3 linked regions of the Homo sapiens genome follow. The protein of the gene in region 3 interacts with the protein of the main gene of each other region in a biochemical or structural test. Each region holds a gene or a part of one and is shown on either strand. Other genes may lie near its edges.

What was found. The genes of interacting proteins can lie anywhere in the genome.
Region 1: the proteins of CTTN (region 3) and ACTR3 form a complex in vitro, tested with the Homo sapiens proteins (3 studies listed by BioGRID).
Region 2: the proteins of CTTN (region 3) and HDAC6 form a complex in vitro, tested with the Homo sapiens proteins (3 studies listed by BioGRID and IntAct, with this or other methods).

The regions. Positions count from the first base shown.
Region 1 is NC_000002.12:113,949,064-113,956,088, reverse strand, and holds part of ACTR3 (actin-related protein 3), read right to left. Parts: intron 4,611-7,025; coding exon 4,518-4,610; intron 4,370-4,517; coding exon 4,244-4,369; intron 467-4,243; coding exon 383-466; intron 1-382. UniProt on the Homo sapiens protein: ATP-binding component of the Arp2/3 complex, a multiprotein complex that mediates actin polymerization upon stimulation by nucleation-promoting factor (NPF).
Region 2 is NC_000023.11:48,812,042-48,819,066, forward strand, and holds part of HDAC6 (protein deacetylase HDAC6), read left to right. Parts: intron 1-2,398; coding exon 2,399-2,525; intron 2,526-2,633; coding exon 2,634-2,699; exon of another isoform or gene 2,700-2,792; coding exon 2,793-2,852; intron 2,853-2,920; coding exon 2,921-3,010; intron 3,011-3,342; coding exon 3,343-3,449; intron 3,450-3,533; coding exon 3,534-3,601; intron 3,602-3,842; coding exon 3,843-4,011; intron 4,012-4,099; coding exon 4,100-4,228; intron 4,229-4,423; coding exon 4,424-4,592; intron 4,593-5,284; coding exon 5,285-5,418; intron 5,419-5,999; coding exon 6,000-6,068; intron 6,069-6,178; coding exon 6,179-6,371; intron 6,372-7,025.
Region 3 is NC_000011.10:70,422,516-70,429,540, reverse strand, and holds part of CTTN (src substrate cortactin), read right to left. Parts: coding exon of another isoform or gene 6,989-7,025; exon of another isoform or gene 6,602-6,988; coding exon 6,546-6,601; intron 4,210-6,545; coding exon 4,140-4,209; intron 3,845-4,139; coding exon of another isoform or gene 3,762-3,844; exon of another isoform or gene 3,454-3,761; intron 491-3,453; coding exon 342-490; intron 1-341.

The sequences.
Region 1 (7,025 bases), on a different chromosome or scaffold from region 3:
TAAGACCTCATCTCAATAAAAAATAATAATAATAATAAAGGCCAGGAGCAGTGGCTCACACCTGTAAACCCAACACTTTGCTTTGGGAGGCCAAGGTGGGCAGATCCCAAGGTCAGGAGTTCAAGAGTAACCTAGCCAACATGATGAAACCCAGTCTCTGCTAAAAATGCAAAATTAGCCAGGTGTGGTGACGCATGCCTGTAGTCCCAGCTACTTGGGAGGCTGAGGCAGGAGAATCACTTTAACCCAGGAGGTGGAGGTTGCAGTGAGCCAAGATCATGCCATTGCACTCCAGCCTGGGTGACAAGAGCGAAAGTCCACCTCAAAAATAAATAAAATAATAATGATAAAATAAAATAAAAGTAAGCTTCATCACACTCACCGTGGAAGCCAGCATTGATCCTCCAAACCAAACTGCATATCGCTGCATGTGGTGTGTAATGACTTGTACATCAATAGGTTTTGGCTAAAGAAAGACATAGTATGATCATCTTCATAGTAAATTCAAATAACAACTTCTGTGTCATTTAACCTTAAATGTACATATACAAAAATAATATCTGTACTAAATTCAGGTGGTATCTTACAAACCAGAAACAATTGAGATTGGCTGTCTCAGAGGAAAGGGGTTGGGAACACTGTGGAAGAGACAGGGAGGGAACAGAGCAGAATAAATGGAAGGGAAATAACAATGAGCACATGTTTTATACAGTTCTGACTTTAAGAATCTAAATGTTAGTGTTTTACATACTAAAAAATAACACCTTAAAAGAAGGGGAGGTTGGGGCAAAACAAAGTACAACAAAAACAAATTAAACTAATTGTACTTTTTTCAAACATAAGCACACTAAGGTGAGGAAAGGGACTAACACAAGCAACTTGTGAGCATAGTATTTTGAATCTTATAAGCCTTCAGGCTGAAGATAAAATATAAGCAAATATTGAATTCTAGTTTTGGGTCTATTTTTCACAGTGGTGTGGATTAACAATTCTGAAACTATCATATACATATTCCAGGATTAAGCAAAAACATAAACATATTATAGATAATAGGAGCCAGGTTTCTCACTGTCAGAGAAGGGCATTACAATATGGAAGGGCAGAAAACTAGAGTGAACCTTCTATAACTGGAGACGTCTGTAAAAATTCATGGTTTTAATTTATGTAGAGAATTAGATATAGATGTATAAACACACACACACCCCTAGCTCTAATCACTGAGAAGGCCTAGACTCAGTGATACCCCAACAGCAATGAGCACAAAGCTTGGTTTCTTAGTAACGTTCTCCACTAACAGGAATAAGACAAGGGTGTCTTGAAGAAAGAAAAGGAGAAAAAAAGGGCTGATTCCAGGGCCAGAAAAGAGAAAGTACAAGATCAGCCTGAAACACCTTGCTGTGCCGGGAAGTACAGAAGTAGGCAAAAAAAAAGATGTGGCTGCATCAAAAAAAAAAACCTAAGAGCCATTTGAATAACTCCCACTGGTCAAATCTGAAAAAAAAAAAAATGTGGGATTAAAATTAATGATGAGTGGTATTACTGATATTATGATATTACAGTGATATTAAAGATATAGACCACAAAATGAGAAATCAGGAGTTCATATAGATATTACTAAAAGAATAAATGAATGTGGGAGAAGGGAAAACTCTTGCTTATAGTAAAACAAGTCTTAAAAACATAGAAGGAATGACAGAAATTGCAAAACTCCATTTAGCAACTACCACAGTAATAACTGTTTTAGGGAAGAATCACAATGGATGCTAAAAACTAGTGACTGAAACTTAAAAGAGAAACAGGATAGTCTGAAAGTGTCTCCTCATTAGATTCTTATTAAATATAAAGGAAAACATAATAACTTTATAGTGAAAAAACCTGGCAGACACAACTTCAACCAAAAGCTCAAAATTCACACACAGGACAAATTCTATCATGTGTCTACTGATACAATGCACTAAAAATGATACAATATCAATTCTGTGGCATCACTGCCAAAAGTACATAATCTGAACCTACTCAAGCAGAAATATTAAACAAACCCAAGCTGAAGGATATGCTACAAAATAAATGGCTGTACTCTTCAAAAATGTCACATTCATTCATGAAAGACAAAAAACATTGAGTATGTAACAGACTGAAGCAACACAATAAGTAAATGAAACATGCAATCCTTGATTGGATCCTGGATAAGGGGGAAGAAGGTATTTTGTTTTCCTTTTGTTATAAGGGACATTAGTGAAACAACCGGTAAAATTAGAATCAGTTCTATAACTAGATAACACTGGATCAAGGTTAATTTCATGATTTTGATAATTGTAATATGTTCTTGATTTTAGAAATATACTAAAATGTTTGGGGATAATGAACCATCATATCTACAATTTAGTGTGTGTGTGTGTGTACACACACCTATTTATAGAAACAGAATGATATGGCTTTTTTCAAAACTGTTTGGTTGCCATTAAAAATTACAGACTGAAGGAAAATAAAGCCAGAGATAGATAGATAAAGGCATGCTATTAAGATCTATAAAAGTTACTAGCAAGTAAAACTAAGGTGAAGAAGGCAGAGTCCTCCAAAACACAAGGTTTTTCCTATACATGATGAGCATCCCAAGTCTGAAAATCCAAAATGCTCCAAGATCCAAAAACTTTTTGAGCACCAACATGATGTTCAAAGGAAATGCTCAGAATTTCAGATTTTTGGATTAAGGATGTTGAACCAGTATATAATGCAAATACTCCAAAATCCAGAAAAACTCAAAACCTGCAACACTTCTGGTATGAAGCAATTCAAAAAAGGGACACCCAATCTGTTTCTTTCAATATGTCGATACGGTACTGATCACTGGGTAAATTTATTTCTTATTTACAAGTGTAAAAAGAGCTTAAAAATGTTAAACAATCTCACTTTTTTAAAATACTATACTCAGAAACATACAGCATTGTTTTGTACTTATATATCTGTAATGAGTTATTAAAAACTAAACAGCTACTTTAATACATCCATAACCATACCATTAGGACAATCAACTTCAATCTTTTAAGTATTCTAACAAAAAAACCAGAACATGCACTATGTTCATTCACATAATCAATGTGGTTAGTAGGATTCTCAGTACAGAGAATTTATACTTGCAAAACCCAATGACTTCTTTTTTAGGTAGGAGGTAGGGTAGATAGATATGTGGGTAAGGGGAGTAGACGGATGGGCAAATGAATGGATGAATGGGGGTGGGCTGGTGGTTTGGTTGGTTGGGAAGGGGATGCAAAAGCAAACACAACATTTTAAAAGTCTATTGAGTAGACTTCCTGAAGTGTGAAGTCATGACATTATAGGGACAGAGTTCAATATTTTGCCTTCCACCCAAAACATATACTTTTTACTGCATTCCTAGGGATAGGTTTACTCAAGATAATCAAAATATAGGCACTGACAACAGTCAGCCATCATGCAATTTCTCAACAATCAGCAAACCCTAGAGTGCTGTGCTTTACTTTTAAGTAATTCTGAATGATTATGGAAGTCTCAGATAAAGTCCTCATTCTTGGTAATCTTCCAAGCAGAAGGTATTTTATTCACATGAAATACCTTTTTTCAAACAGCTTTGAAAAAAGCCATATCATTCCTCTAAATCAACGTTCTGCTTCAATATTTAACAAGGATGAAAAAAATGAAGAATCTATCTCTAAATATAGAAAGTAGACATCTAAGAATTTTAAATTAATTTTGATTTTTTTTAACCTCAAGCCTAAAGGTCCAGGACATGTAATACAAAGGTTACTTTATTAAACCACCGATTTGACTGCACACTTTGAGGTTGCTATGTGGGAGCTAAAGTCAGTTTTTGAGAGCAGGCTTGACTACTCAACAATGGCATCAATCTCAACTCAGCTTTGCTGTCCTTCTATAGTATAAAACATTTTGTGGATCCATAATTAATTTGATTGTTGGTGTATGCAAAGAAATCTACTATATTAATTATCTATGAGAGAGGTATTTAAAAAAAAAGTCTTTCCACAGGTATTACTAAGAATTATTTTCCAGAAATACAGACAATATCCTAGAAGAATCAAATGATCCAGAATATCACAGACATAAATCTATAACATTAACCATTTCCATTAGAATACCTGACAGGTTCCTCTTATTTTTCTAAATCAGAGTGAATGCTGGCAAATATTTCTCATCCTAATCAAGGAAGGCACCCTCAACCTTCTCACCAATAATTGGGAAAACCAACCTTCAATCTACCACCACTCAATTCCTCACTTAATTTCAGCCGGGCATCTACAGTTCTTTTCAAATCTCTTTGCAAGCGACGTCCAAAGTCCCTGAACATGGTTGAACCTCCAGAGAGGACAATATTCTAGTGGAGAGAAAATAAATATAATATTTAAAAAGAGAAAAGTTTAAAGATATAATATATAGTACTGAAATGCTATTATATCCTTTTTATGAGAGGTGTTTAAGTTTTTTTAAAGTAAGACCTTGAATAACAATTTTGCTATAAATACCTTGTAGAGAGGACGTCTGACATCAATAGGACAATTCTGAATTACTTCATCTACAACTTCTGAGATAGGTTGTGTAAAGTCTGGATTAGCAAACTGAAAAATAAGTTGGATATATAATAGAGATCATATCACTACTGACAAATATCACAATAAAAGGTTAAACAAAGTTTTCAGTTCAAAAACAAAAGGCCTTTTAGAAACCACTAATACTGGTCTCTAACAGATTCAGATTGAAGACACTGAAATCAGAGAAAACTCAAAATTATGATGATATATACCATTTTATAACTATCAGAATAGCAAACATGTAAAGTCATACATATACTATGAGCTGGCAAAAATCTGGGTAAATGGAAACTTTCATATAACGCTGTGAGAGTATACACTGATGTAACCACTATGGAGAATAATTTGGCAATAGTAACATAGTGACATGGTCTGGCTCTGTGTCCCCACCCAAATCTCATCTTGAATTGTACTCCCATAATTTCCACGTGTTGTGGGAGGGACCTGGTGAGAGAGAATTGAATCATGAGGGTGGTTTCCCCCATACTGTTCTCATGGAGTGAATAAGTTGCACAAGGTCTGATGGTTTTATCAGGGATTTCTGCTTTTGCGTCTTCCTCATTCTCTCTTTGCCTGCTGCCATCATGTAAGACAGGACTTGCTCCTCCTTGCCTTCTGCCATGATTGTGAGGCTTCCCCAGCCACGTGGAACCATAAGTCCAATTAAACCTCTTTCTTTTATAAATTGCCCAGTCTCAGGTATGTCTTTATTAGCAGTATGAAAACGGACTAATACAAATAGCTAATAAAATTTTAAATGCACATACCAGTAACTCCACTTCTTACAACAAACTCTGAAGAAACTCCCCAAACATGTATGCTATTACATATGCATATTTACTATAGCCTTGTTTCTAAGAGGAAAAACCCGTTAAGTCCATCAATAGGGGATGAAATAAATAAATGTAGTCTAATCTCATTATTCATGATTCCATATTTGTGAATTTACCTAATCGCTAAAACATATTTGTTACTCCCCAAATCAAAATATGGTTATTCATGGACATGCACGTGTAGAGCAACAAAAATTTGAGTCCACTGATGTGCACATTCCCCATTGAGGTTGAACAAGATGATACTCTGCTATCTAGTTTCAGCTCTCATACTATAAACAAGTGTCCTTTTCACAGTTCTATTTAGTGGCACGGTTTTCATATTTTTGTTAGTGATTTCATTATTTAAAATGGCCCCCAAGCATACTGCTCAAGTGCTGGCTAGTAAACACAAGGAGGCTGTGATGTGTCTTACAGAGAAAAAGCAAGTTAGATAGCTTTGTTCAGACATGTGTTCTAGTGCTATTGAATATAAATGAATATACTAAAATGATATACTAAATGCAGTGCCTTTAAAAAGAAACACACATGAAACAAGGGTATATGTTAATGGGATAACAAAAATGTTACCAGAGGCTCAAAGAAACCTAATACTGTATTTCCCCTAGGAGCAATAGCTAGCTCAGTGTTCACTAATTCAGCGCTCTCAAGAACTTTTTGGCACATCTACTTTGAATAACAAACATCAGCTATATATTCAAACGATGATATACCATAGTCAAAATAAACTTACTATTTCCAAACAGCTGGCACTCAAGAAAAACATACTTTTTAAAAAACTAACTTAAACAAAAACAAAAAACAACTTGAAGCTGGGCATGGTGACTCACACCTATAATCCCAGTGCTTTGGGAGGCCAAGGCAGGACCATTGCTTGAGACCCAGAGTTTGACACCAGCCTGGGCAACATAGCGAGACCCTGTCTCTACAAAAAATTTAAAAACTAGCTAGGCATGGTGGCACACACCTGTAGTTCCAGCTACTTGAGAGGGCTGAGGAAAAAGGATTGCTTGACCCTAGGAATTCGAGGTTACACTGAGTTATGATCACACCACTGCACTCCAGCCTGGGTGACAGAGAGAGACTCTGTCTCTAAATAAATAATCAAAATCTAGCTCTAATTAGTGAAAAACAAACAAGTATTGTATATCTCCTCAGCCATTCATTTTTATCATTAGGTTGTCCTAGTTGAGAGACATTATTCCTTTATTTATTAAACTGAGTCTATAACTGTATTGATAATTATTAGGCATGTGTCAATTTTTTCTTTTTTTTTTTCTTTTTTTTTTTTTTTTGAGACCGAGTCTCGATCTGACACCCAGGCTGGAGTGCAGTGGCGCAATCTTGGCTCACTGCAACCTCTGCCTCCTGGGTTCAAGCAATTCTCCTACCTCAGCCTCCCGAGTAGCTGGGATTACAAGCGTCCGCCACCACGCCCGGCTAATTTTTGTGTTTTTAGTAGAGACGGGGTTTCACCATGTTGGCCAGGCTGATCTCGAACTCCTGACCTCAGGTGATCCGCCTGCCTCAGCCTCCCAAAGTGCTGGGATTATAGGTGTGAGCCACCACGCCCTGCCTTTTTCCAGTTTTTAAGATTAGTTCTAAATTA
Region 2 (7,025 bases), on a different chromosome or scaffold from region 3:
CCTGAAAATTAACAATAATTATTTTTTTAATCTGCCAAGGGTCTGTCATTCAAAGAATTCTTTAATATCATTAATCATTCTTTTTGTTTGAATAAATGCATAGGAGGCTATAGCTGTGTGTTCTTTCATGGGTACACTATTGATTACACACACAGATGTGAAACACTGTGAATATATTCAGTGCATTCTTCCTTATTAACAAACGTGTGTAAACAAACAAACAAAAAGAACATGTCCATGCCCTTGGATCTCCCAGCTCCCCATCTCTCAGTCTCTGAACTCCAGCAGCAGGGAGACAAACTGGATAATCCTTAAAATACTGTTGTGAAGACAAGGAAAGCAGATGATCTAAAACTAAGTAGTTAAAAGAAACAAGTAACTTTGTTGTATTGGTGATTCAGTGAGTTGGCTCTTCAGAAGGGATTTTGTGTGCATTGACCTGGATCTGTACTGGATTTCTCCAGAAAGGAAACTTCAGCTTATCTTGGGTGCCCCCTTATCCTGCTCAGCATGAGACAGAGCACCCTGGGGCCCCTGGAATCTCAAAGTCTACTTTCTAGAAATTCATTGAAGTCTCTTATTCTCTGACATCCTTTCCACTCTCTCTTTCTGGGTTGCTGTTTGTTTACAATTTCTTTACTGTATTTTGAATGGGGTAGTAGGAGGTTGAGGAAGTAAACCTGTGCTATCAATCCACCATTTAACTTGAAGGTGGTTGAACTTATTTTGAATTTCCCTTCTGTTTTCTTTTTAAACTTAGCTTGAGTGCTAGTTCTGCTGTTTATTGACTTTGATGGCTCTCTTTTAGAGTCAGCTTTCTTCAGATCTTTTCTTTCTTCCTGTCTTCCCCAATGATATTTTTTTCTTTTCCTTTCTTTTTTTTTGAGACAGAGTCATGCTCTGTCGCCCAGGCTGGAGTGCAGTGGCCCGATCTCGGCTCACTGCAACCTCCGCCTCCTGGGTTCAAGCAATTCTCCTACCTCCACCTCCCAAGTAGCTAGGATTACAGGCACGCGCCACCACGCCCAGCAAATTTTTTGTATTTTTAGTAGAGACAGGGTTTCGCCATGTTGGCCATGCTGGTCTCGAACTTCTGGCCTCTAGTGATCCGCCCACCTTGGCCTCCCAAAGTGCTGGGATTACAGGTGTGAACCACTGCGCCCAGCCCTCTGGTGATAATTTTTATGTCCTACTGTGTTTCTCTTCCTCTAATGATTAACTTACTAAAAGTTTAGAACCAAGATTTATCTATCAATGTCAAAAATAAAACAATCATCCTCCACCTACTCAACACCAGAGCTTTTGCTTGTTTTTATTCCCCAATTCCAAGCTCTTTTCCCTCAATTTTAAGAATCTTTCTATATCACTTGCATTAAATTTCACAACTACATTATCAACCCATTAAAATGTGACTCTTAAGTTTGTCTAGATTCAATGCATACCACTATTTCTTGCATTTCCCTAAAAAAGCTGCCTTAGATCCTCTCTGGAACAAAGCAGGGGGTAAATGACCAGATAGAAGGATGGATGGATGATAGATTATTCATTTTGCTTTCCCCAGTCAGAATTAAGCCCTCCCATGGCCCCTTGCTGGGCTTTCTGTCAAAACACGTGCATCGCATCTTTTCAGTATCTGTTTTGCGTGTCGGTCATACTCACCCCTCTGAGTGCTCATTCTCTCGCCTATAAAATAGAAGAAGTAGTAGAGGTGGCCTGTAAGGCATTGGGGAGGAGGAACTGCCCTTTCACTGGCCTCATGACAGCCCCAGCCAGCACCCCCGCTCTAGTTCCACCCACAGAAGCAAGTCTCACCCCTACCCCCCAGGTCTCTCCACTTCCTGCTAGAGAATCACCCAGCTCCCCAGCCTGGCTTGAGGCTCTTTTCAGCCTTAGCTGGCTCCCCGCAGCTAAGAGCCCCATGCTCCATTTGGGCCTCCAGTGTCACAGGGTTTGACCTGCTGTTACTACTACCTTTGTCATAGGGGCAGGTAGTGGGCGGACATGATCTAGAGTACCCCACAGAGTCAGGAGCCCCCATGATCTGAGATAGACCCTAGAGCTGAGCCTGAAATTGGGTGGGCACTGAGGGGGCAGCGATGTTTGCTGAGGGAGAGGTTCTGGTGAGAGACTAAATGAATGAGCGAGTGAGGTAATGGATAAATAAAGATAAGAATGAAAAAATGGTAAGATGATTAAATTGGTGACTGAATGTAAGGGTAAATTAATGGAAGAATGGATTCATGGATTAAATAATTAATGGGGAAATTAATGAATGAGAGAATGAACGAGTGGTTGAATGGGGAAATGAGTGGTAGAGGAAACTGGCAACTGTTGGGTTGGGGGTGTCTATGGGGATTGACTTCTCCAACTCTCTTACCTCTTTTTCTTCTGCCCCCAGTGTCCTCTATTTCTCCATCCACCGCTACGAGCAGGGTAGGTTCTGGCCCCACCTGAAGGCCTCTAACTGGTCCACCACAGGTTTCGGCCAAGGCCAAGGATATACCATCAATGTGCCTTGGAACCAGGTCAGCATCTACCCACCTCTGCCCCCAAAGTGAGGCCCAGCCCCGCCCTTCTGTCAGCGGCTCGGGACAGGTGGCTGAACATCCCCCATCACACTCCTGTGTCTGCAGGTGGGGATGCGGGATGCTGACTACATTGCTGCTTTCCTGCACGTCCTGCTGCCAGTCGCCCTCGAGGTCCTGGGGATCTGGGGTGTGTTGGGAGGAGGAGTGGCCTTGAAGGTTAGGCTGTGAGGGTAGGTAGCCTCATGGAGTCTGTTCCCCCTTCAGTTCCAGCCTCAGCTGGTCCTGGTGGCTGCTGGATTTGATGCCCTGCAAGGGGACCCCAAGGTAAGGCAGGCTCCCTGGGGCGGCAGGTGGGTTGCATGGAGCCAGGCTGACCCTCCATGTCCCCCCAGGGTGAGATGGCCGCCACTCCGGCAGGGTTCGCCCAGCTAACCCACCTGCTCATGGGTCTGGCAGGAGGCAAGCTGATCCTGTCTCTGGAGGTGAGTGACTCACCTTCGTCCCTCAGCCTGTGGATCCTGGAGGGCTTAAGAACGAAGCTTTCAAGTCCAACAGGAGTTCCTGGCCCAGGAATTCACTTACTAGCTGGACAACCTTGCATAAGTCACTTCACTTCTTTGTGCCTCCGCTTTCCTTCTATAAAACGAGCATAATGTAATCACCTCATATCATTGTCCAGTGAATTCAGTGAGGCACCCTTCTAAGTTCCTTGTTGCTTGACATGTGGTATGCACTCTCTTATTATCATCATTATTATTATTCCCTGGTCATGTCTGGTCCTTTCCTGATCCCCCTTCACAACTCCTTGCCCCAGGGTGGCTACAACCTCCGCGCCCTGGCTGAAGGCGTCAGTGCTTCGCTCCACACCCTTCTGGGAGACCCTTGCCCCATGCTGGAGTCACCTGGTGCCCCCTGCCGGAGGTGAGCCCCGGTGGAGGAGGGGAAAGCGGGAGCCTCACTGCCCGCCCACATTCCTTGACATCATATTTTCTCCCTGCCCTGCAGTGCCCAGGCTTCAGTTTCCTGTGCTCTGGAAGCCCTTGAGCCCTTCTGGGAGGTTCTTGTGAGATCAAGTAGGAAGTGGGGTGTGGGCCTGGTGTGGGGTGGACGTGGGATGAGCCCTGGGGGAGACTGTCTTCAGACTTCCTCTGACTTTACTGGGCTGCCTTGGTGGGAGAGGGTCAGGCCCTCTCTCTCTCCCTGGGCCCTGGTTTCAGGCCTCCCACCCCTTTTTCTGTTTGGGTCACCTGAGTTCCAGAGTATGACGGGGATTCAGATTGAGAGGGTAGGACAAACGTGGCCTCCCCCTTTTAGCTGAGACCGTGGAGAGGGACAACATGGAGGAGGACAATGTAGAGGAGAGCGAGGAGGAAGGACCCTGGGAGCCCCCTGTGCTCCCAATCCTGACATGGCCAGTGCTACAGTCTCGCACAGGGCTGGTCTATGACCAAAATATGATGAATCACTGCAACTTGTGGGACAGGTAGGCATTTGGAGGGCTGGATGAGTAGGTGTTGGGGGTCCCTCCCCCTCAGGCACTAAGCCTCTACCTCTCGTTTCCCCACTGCTAGCCACCACCCTGAGGTACCCCAGCGCATCTTGCGGATCATGTGCCGTCTGGAGGAGCTGGGCCTTGCCGGGCGCTGCCTCACCCTGACACCGCGCCCTGCCACAGAGGCTGAGCTGCTCACCTGTCACAGGTCAGACCCCGGTGCCTGGGGTGGGTGGATTCCCAGGACTGTGGATGAGGTCTCAGGGGCTGGAACTTGGGTTTCCCCTCCTGGGGAGCTGCTGCAGGACTTGAGAGGGGCTGAAGTCCCTGTCTTAGGGGTGGGGACCAGGGAGGGGACAGACCCTCCTCACTGTCCTGCGGGTGCTCCTCTCTGTGCTTCCAGTGCTGAGTACGTGGGTCATCTCCGGGCCACAGAGAAAATGAAAACCCGGGAGCTGCACCGTGAGAGTTCCAACTTTGACTCCATCTATATCTGCCCCAGTACCTTCGCCTGTGCACAGCTTGCCACTGGCGCTGCCTGCCGCCTGGTGGAGGCTGTGCTCTCAGGAGAGGTGTGTCCTCTGTGGGCTGGGGAGAGGAGGACCTGGGGGGAATGGAAAAAGAGAGCCATCTGCTGTTTCTGGAGGCTCTGAGAGAGTCAAGCAGGGCCTGAGGAAAGGGGCCATGGGGAGGGGCACGGGAGGGGGTGGGCCTAGAGGCTGGGGGAATAATGGAAGGAACTGGAGAAAGGGAAGGGTGGCCAAGTGCAGTGGCTCACGTCTGTAATCCTAGCGCTTTGAGAAGCTGAGGTGAGCTCAGGAGGTCAAGGCTGCAGTAAGCCATGATTGCACCACTGCACTCTAGCCTGGGCAACAGAGTGAGACCCTGTGTCAAAAAAAAAAAAAGGTCCGGGCGTGATGGCTCACACCTGTAATCCCAGCACTTTGGGAGGCCGAGGTGGGCAGATCACGAGGTCAGGAGATCGAGACCATCCTGGATAACATGGTGAAACCCCGTCTCTACTAAGAAACATACAAAAAATTAGCCGGGCGTGGCAGCAAGCGCCTGTAGTCCTAGCTACTCAGGAGGCTGAGGCAGGAGAATGGCGGGAACCTGGCAGGCGGCGCTTGCAGTGAGCCGAGATGGCGCCACTGCATTCCAGCCTGGGCGACAGAGCGAGACTCCGTCTCAAAAAAAAAAAAAAAAAAGGAAGAAAGGAAGGTGAGGGCAGGCTGTCCGATCTTAGCACCCTGCTGCTTCCCAGGTTCTGAATGGTGCTGCTGTGGTGCGTCCCCCAGGACACCACGCAGAGCAGGATGCAGCTTGCGGTTTTTGCTTTTTCAACTCTGTGGCTGTGGCTGCTCGCCATGCCCAGACTATCAGTGGGCATGCCCTACGGTAAGGACTCCCTGGGGACCCCCCAAATCCTGATCCTTGTGGGGACCTGGATGCTCCCCCCAGCCCATTGTTTACTCATGCCCCATGGTCCAGCTCCCAGGACTTCCTTCCCCAGAAAGAAGTAAGGGTGCAGTCCTTACCCAGAGAAGGACCGAGGATGGAGCCTCTCAGTGCTTATTTAGATAGGACCCCCAGATCATGTTACCTGGGCACTTACAAAACAGGATCCAGGGTCCCACCCCAGCATTTCTGGCCTATAGCAGCTGCCTCGACAGAACCCAGGTCTAGGCTCCTGATGCATACTCCAGAAGACCCACGAACCAGCCCCCAGCATTAGCTGCCCAAGGCCCAGGGTCCAGTTCCCTAGCAATGACCCAGAAGAGCCCAGGGCCCAGCCCCGAGCACTTGCTCAGGCCTACCGGGCAGCCCTTGGGAACCAGGATCAGACTTTTCTCCTTAACTGATAGGACCCAGGGTCCTGCCACTCAGCACTAAATGCCCCTGCAGACCCCAGGGGTCTAGCCCAGCCCTCTTCCAGGGCGTGAGTATCGTCGGTTACTGAGGTGCTGTCTCCTCCCCAGGATCCTGATTGTGGATTGGGATGTCCACCACGGTAATGGAACTCAGCACATGTTTGAGGATGACCCCAGGTAAGGGCTGCAGTCAGGGGCCGCAGTGTGATCAGGGAGGCGGGTGAGCACCTCAGGGGTACTGGAGCCCCTAACCAGCCATGGTCCGCTTCCCACCCCCTCCCTGGCAGTGTGCTATATGTGTCCCTGCACCGCTATGATCATGGCACCTTCTTCCCCATGGGGGATGAGGGTGCCAGCAGCCAGATCGGCCGGGCTGCGGGCACAGGCTTCACCGTCAACGTGGCATGGAACGGGCCCCGCATGGGTGATGCTGACTACCTAGCTGCCTGGCATCGCCTGGTGCTTCCCATTGCCTACGAGGTACAGCTCAGGATAGATCGCAGGACGTATGTGACACGCCTGTGCAGGTGGCAGCCTGGACCTGCCTCCTTGGCATGTGTGTGTGTGACTACCATGTGGCTGATGATATGAGACAGCGCATGGGTGTTTAATGAGGCTACCAGGGCAGTTGGTGGCTGTGATCACCTTGTGTATTTGTGCACAGATGGCTGTACATGACTGCCTTCTCTGTGTGACACTGTGTGAGTGACTGTCTTGGCTGTGTGTGTGAGGGCCTTCTGACTATGCACCAATGGCCCGTGTCCTGGCTGGATCTGTGTTGTATGTGCGTGCCATCACAAGTGCTTGAGTATGTGCGTGTGCGACTCTGTGCAGGCAGGTATTTCTCACCTTTTCTCTGTGTGATGGGTGTGATACTGTATGTCACTAAATGCAACCATCTCTGTGACAGCCTGTGTGGGACCTTCTGGATGTGGAAGGCTGTGTGTGACAGCAGTCACTGTCTGGCTGTCTGCCCTGGCTGTTTGTGTGTATGTCTCTGACTGGGAGGTAGCTGCCTTCCCTCTGTGTGAGCTAGGAGGCTGGTGGCTTGTGTATGGCTGACTCTGGGAGGGAGGGAAAGGGTGTGAGCACCGCTCTGTCACCCTGGGCGCCGGTGTGCATCTTTGGATCTGC
Region 3 (7,025 bases):
CAGGCTGACATTTGGACAGGAGCCCCGTGGAGGTGGAAGCCGACAAGACTCTGCCGTCAGCTCAGGGACAGAGGGCAGGGCAGGTTGGCGGGTCCTGGGGCTGGACCGGCAAGACCAGGATAGCGCTAGCCGGCTGCCTGGAGCATTGTGGCCAGAGACTCAGCCTATGTGTGGCTGCAAGTGACAAGTGCCTTAATGGAGAGCCTTAAAGGAGAGTTAAACATGCCTTCCAAGGAAAACCTGGCCAGGAGAGAATAAGCCCCGCCCAGGCCCCAGAGCTCCCAATCCCCTCGGCACAGGTCCCAGGGAGGGTGCGCTGCGGCCCACTCCTTGCCACTCACCTCCAGCTTCCTCCTGGCCTCTTCCTGCTCCTGCCGCTCCTTGGCCATCCGCTGGGCTCTCTCCGCCTCCGCCTTCCGCCTGTCCTCCTGCTCTTTCTCCTTAGCGAGGTTTTCAAAGTTAGCTCTGATGTTACTTGTTTTGCTGGTCACTATAGAGGAAGGAGGGAGGACGTGTGCCTTGAGCACAGCAAAAACACTGCTCCTGGACAACAGCCCCACCCACACAGAGTGACCTCCCCAGGAACCGGTCATCCCCCTAACCCCCAAGGAGGGAAAGGTTCTTGCAGCTGCCAGCTCAGCCCACTGGTCCGGAGCCAGCACTGGGCACCTGCCGCAGGGCACTGCGTACCTGGTGGGACTGGCAATCCCCCTAAGCCTGGCATCAGGAAGATCTCTAAATAAGACGGTATCTTCACCACCACACTCACCTTTTTAAATAAAAACAGCCAATTTCCCTTAAAGACATCTGTCCTTGATAAAGCAGTTAAGGTACTGATGTATACTGTAATTGACGTATACTGAGTATAGTAAATCTCAACCAGAGTATACATTTTTTTATATTGTGTGTGACAAAAATGGAAAAGAGGGCAGTGGCTCATGCCTGTAATCCCAGCACTTTGGGAGGTTGAGACGGGAAGACTGAGATCAGGAGTTTGAGACCAGCCTGGGAAAGACAGTGAGACCCCGTGTCTATTAAGAAAAAATGATAAAAATTTAAGTCAAAAGTGGGGAATATGGCCGGGCATGGTGGCTCACACCTGTAATTCCAGCACTTTGGGAGGCTAAGGTGGGCGGATCACGAGGTCAAGAGATCAAGACCATCCTGGCCAACATGGTGAAACCCTGTCTCTACTAAAAATAGAAAAATTAGCTGGGCTTGGTGGCAGGCACCTGTAATCCCAGCTACTCGGGAGGCTGAGGCAGGAGAATCGCTTGAACCTGGGAGGCAGGGGTTGCAGTGAGCCGAGATTGTGCCACTGCACTCCAGTCTCGCGACAGAGCGAGACTCTGTCTCAAAAAAAAAAAAAAAAAAAAAAAAAAAAAAAGTGGGAAGACACATGAGCCTTCCCTGCTGTGTCCGGGACTGTGGCGGTGGCTGTCTGTGTCTCAAGGACCATGAATAGAACCATGAGAGCTGCAAGTTGACTGTTTTCTCATGGAATAGCGTTTTTCCCTGAAATAACAACTGACAGTCCAACTATGGTTATGCAAAGCTGGGTATCTGGCAACAGTTTTCTCCCAAGTGAATGAACTAAGCCTATTGTGTCAAGAAAAATTACTGGAGTATTTGTTGCCAACGGGAAAATTCCAGCTTTCAAGTAAAAGACAGAATTTTGAAAAATGTGAGGCTGCCACATGAACATGCTGATTTCCACTCAGCTTCTGCAGATGAAATAGATGATGACAGCAAATGTGATTTTTTTTGGTATTGTGGAATGAGAAGTGTCCACAACTGGAAGACGAGCACAACTCAGAGACCCAGCATTTTCCAAATGACCAACACACAGTGCTGCCCAAGCACAGTGGGTAGCGAGTCCCTCACAGGGCCAGAGGAGCCGGCCTGCAGGACCACCACTGCCTGGCACGCTTGGGCGGCGTCGCAGAAGGACACCCACGCTGCCCTCAAGGTTACAAACACTCCTCCCTTTCCCAATCGCCTACCTAGGTGATTCCACATGTTCTTCCTAAACAACGTAACATCGATAGACTGCAGAGGCAGATGTGAGAGTGCAGCCATCTTCTATTAAAGAGATTTACAAAACAAAACAATGCCGGTCTTCTCACTAAGTGCTGGGATTACAGGAATGAGCCACTGTGCATGGCCAGTTATATTATTATTTTTATTTTTTGAGATGGAGTTTAGCTGTTGTCGCCCAGGCTGGAGTGCAGTGGCGCAATCAAGGCTCACTGCGACCTCTGCCTCCAGGTTCAAGCAATTCTCGTACCTCAGTCTTCTGAGTAGCTGGGATTACAGGCGTGGACCACCATGCCCAGCTACTTTTTGTATCTTTAGTAGAGACAGGGTTTCACCATGTTGGCCAGTCTGGTCTCAAACTCCTGACCTCAGGTGATCCACCCACCTCGGCCTCCCAGAGTGCTGGGATTACAGGTATGAGCCACCACACCCGGCCAAGGTTTATTCTTTTTAAGTGAACCAATTAATAACTTTCCAATGTCGCTCATGCCTGTAATCCCAGCACTTTGAGAGGCCGAGGCAGGTGGATCACTTGAGCTCAGGAATTCAAGACCAGCCTGGGCAACACAGTGAGACCTCATCTCTACTAAAGATAAAAAAATTTGGCCGGGCACAGTGGCTCATGCCTGTAATCCCAGCACTTTGGGAGGCCGAGGCGGGCAGATCATGAGGTCAGGAGATCGAGACCATCCTGGCTAACACGGTGAAACCCCGTCTCTACTAAAAAATAGCAACAACAACAAAAAAATTAGCCGGGCGTGGTGGCAGGCGCCTGTAGTCCCAGCTACTCCGGAGGCTTGAGGCAGGAGAATGCCGTGAACCCGGGATGGGAGGCGGAGCTTGCAGTGAGCCGAGTCCGCGCCACTGCACTCCAGCCTGGGCGACAAAGTGATACTCTGTCTCAAAAAAAAAAAAAATTTAACTGGGCAGGGGGCATGCGCTTATAGTTCCAGCTACTCCAGAGGCTGAGGCAAGAGGACTGCTTGAGCCCAGGAGACTGAGGCAGCAGTCCTGCCTGGATGACACAGCAAGACCCGGTCTCAAAATAAATAAATAAATAAACCATTCCTCTCTCTCTTTTTTTTTTTTTTTTGAGACGGAGTCTCGCTCTGTCATCCAGGCTGGAGTGCAGTGGCGCAAACTCCGCTCACTGCAAGCTCCGCCTCCTGGGTTCACGCCATTCTCCTGTCTCAGCCTCCCGAGTAGCTGGGACTACAGGCGCCCGCCACCATGCCTGGCTAATTTTGTTTTTGTATTTTTAGTAGAGACGGGGTTTCATCGTGTTAGCCAGGATGGTCTCGATCTCCTGACCTCGTGATCCGCCCGTCTTGGCCTCCCAAAGTGCTGGGATTACAGGCATGAGCCACTGTGCCGGGCCACATTCCTCTAATTTCTAATATAGTCAATGTCATCAAATACATCAACATCTTGGGGGTTCTCACGAGTGGTCAAAGTGTCAAAGCGTCCTGGGCCCTCAATCTCTGAGAACTGTGGGTCCATAGCCCCTGAAGGAAGTCAGTGGTGGCTCTCTGCATCCTGTGTTAAATTTAGCACTTGCTCTCATGTATGTATAACATTTTCCCCAACTACTTGACTCTCCGGGGCAGGGCCCACATCTGACTCCATCGTGTGTCCAGCACAGAAAAGGACAGGTTTCGAGCTCCCTGTCAAGGGCCCAAGAACGAGCAGCAGAGAGAATGTCTGCTGTCGCCTGCACATCGACGTCATGATGTCTTCCTCCTGTCACAGCTGCGACCGAGCGGCTCAGGGAGTTGGGCAGGCCCCAGCTGCTCCCAGAAGCTGGTCACTGGCAGTGTGGAGGCCCTTGTGAATGTGCACTTAGCCCCTTTGCTCTGGGAAGAGCCCCTTGAAACGGGCCCCACTGAAACGGCTGCACCATGCTGCGTCTAAAAGGTGACTCTAAACCTCTGCAGGAGAAACAAGATCTTCATCAGAACGATCATTTTCTTTCCCAAAAATACGCAGCAACAACCACGCTTTCAACTAGTGGTGCATCTGCTCCTGGCTGTTTCACAACTGTCCTTCCCCTCAGTGTTTTCCTGGGAAACCACACGGTGCTCCTGGTATCAGCCGGGACTCACCAGCTTCGACAGGTACTGTCTTCTGGTAGGCAGAGGACACCTGGGTGACATCCTCAAAGGTTGACGCATTCTGCAGAGACAGGACATGGGCGTCAGGAGAGCACTTTTCTCTTTTCTCCATGCCCTGTGGTAGCTCCTGCCAGATGCAAATGCCTTCCCCAGATCTTCCCAAAGGCCCAGCCACACAGCCCAGAGCACTCTTCATGGCCTCTCGGTTTTGCAAACTAACTGAGGCATGAAAACTATTACCAACCACATTTGCAGGCAATCGTGGGTCAGCATTAGCATAAGAAATGCATGTATCTCCATCTGCTCTACCACAAACCAATTCTGGGATCAGCCTCAAGCCTTCCCCACCCTCCGTCGCCACCCAGAGGTGTGAGCATTTACAGGAAGCGAAGACGCTGGGGACACATGCAAGCCTCCAGTGGCCCGTCCTACACACTACCCAGTGGTGCAATCACACCTTTCTGCATTGCAGGGGACTCAACTATGGTCTGACCAAGCGACGGCGATGACTCTTACGTGCTGACTCAGGTGGAGACTGTCAGGGCTCATGGAGACCAGTGGCCGTACCCAGTTTCACTGTGGGTTTCACTACCTCTGATGAGAACACCTGAGGCTCAGAAGCCACCAGAGCCCCCATACCATGGCCCCTTTCTGCCCAGCACCTCCTGCTTGCCCCCTTCCTGGCCCGCCTGTCCTTCCTCGGACCCCGCTCCCTCCTCCCATCAGTCAGCTCCAGCGTCTACTCCATGTCCCTTGAGCTGCTTGCACCTGTTCAAAGGCAAGGCCATCAGCCTTACTGGGTCCCATCACCCACTGGGCCCTCTGCAGACATCACCTTGCCCTGAGGGGGCAACTTCACCTCCCAGCCTGGGTTGTAGCCCTATCCCCACAATGTATGGGGACCCGGGCAGTTACGTCACCCTCTCTAAGCCTTGGACTCCTCCATCACACAGCAAACAGAGAGAGAAGCTCCACCCCCTCCTGGATGAAAGACAATGACACGAAAGGCCACACCCACACACTGCCTCCTCACGTGCTCACAAGCTCAGCGGTCACCGCCAACACCAGCAATGCTGACCACAGACACCCACAACACAGGCAGTCCCTCAGGTTCCGGCCTCAAAGCCACAACCTCTGACTCACCCACAGGGGAGCTCCTTCCCTCCGTCTGTCCCAGTGCCTTGCAAGGCCCCTGCTACCTCACTGGGTCCCCCTGCCCAGTGTCCTCTGACCGCGTGCCTACTCCCCTCCCAACTCTGCACGCCACCCGGACCCGGCCCCGGCCCTACCCCAGCTCTCTCTCGCTGACACCCACATCTGCTCCTCCCAGTTCTTCGGCTCCACAGTTGGCCCCACGTCCACCCCACATCCACCCGACTGCTCCCTCCCCTGCGTCCCTTGGCGCCAAACACCATGCCCTGCTTCTCCACCACCCGAGCCCCTCCAGCTCTCTTCAGGACCACACCCCTCTGCCCAGGCCAACCCCCACAACCCAGACTCCACGCTGAGGCCGGGGGCTTCTCAAAGTAGACCCCCCCAGTGTTCCTTGCCTGCTAACCTTTCTGGGGCCACGCACGTCAGATGCTCTGTGGTGTGTGACGCATGTCACGACATGCAGAATGCTCTGTGGTGTGTGGGGCTCTCCAGGGCCAGCTCTATCCCCGCTCCCCACCCTCCCTCTGCAGCTAGGCTCCTTGAGAACCTGCAGTGACTCCTGTCCCACCCAGGCCCACACCTCGCCCCTCCGTGGTCTCCTGAGCCTTCTCTCCTGGTGAACTCGCGCCTGCCCTCAGAAATGAGCCCAGGCTACTGCTCCCTGGGGAGCCCAGCCCGAACACCTGCTCTGCCTGCCTACGCCCCTGGATGGTGCTGTGTGGTCAGCTGCGAGGCAAGGACTGACCCTGCCACCCCTGACCACAGGCCACGCGCAGGAGCAGGCAGTGTGGAGCCCGCGTCTCTACGAGGCTGAAGACGGGAGACATGGCTCATCACCGCACACGCAGCGCTGGCTGCCAGCGAGGTAGCCCCACACGCAGTCTAACACACTCAGGTTCCAATCTGATTTACTATTAAGAATTTAAGTTCAAATGGACATGAGCCCTCGAGGCTCTCACCTCTCATGTTAAACATCTGGGTTCCTATGGCTGCAGCCAGGTGCTGAGCCTGCCTGGCCTGGGGCCCCCAGTTAGGAGGTGGGCCGGTGCCAGCGCCTATCCCACAGCACGGCCATGAGGAGCACAAGACTGTCCGAGTCAGTCATCGCCACCACCACCACCACCACGACGGAAATCACTTGTGCCCCACCCCAGCGCGTGGATGTTGGCCAGCACGGTGAGCCACGCCCACCAAGAGCCCCTGCAGGCAGAAGACACTAAGCTCCGGGGCTGGAATATTTACCTTATCCATCCGATCCTTCTGCACCCCATACTTCCCGCCGAATCCTTTGGAGTAGTCTGAAACGTGGCAAAACACAACACTTACTCTGAGGTGGAGGCGAGCATGGGGGTGGCCGTGGGTGCATGCAGACAGATCCAGAAACAGCCCAAGAAGGTGCACCACAGCGGGAAGAAACGAGAATGGCCAAGCGAGGCTTCACTTGCAAGGCAAGTTTTGCTTCCACCCATGGTCGTGAGACACAGGCAGTGAGAAGCAGAGCACAGGCCAGGGGCAGAGGCTTCAGCATTCCCTGAGGGGCAGGAGGGGCAGGAGGGGCGGCGGGCAGCAGGCAGGAGCTAAGCGAGGAAAGAGGGCACGGACAGGCCTTTGCAACGCGCCACTTCAATAGCACAGTCTTCCGCACCAGCACGGGCTTATTCTCATCTGCTTCCTGTGCGCCTGCTCTACTGAGCGCTAAAAAGAGGCTCAATCGCAGTTTGT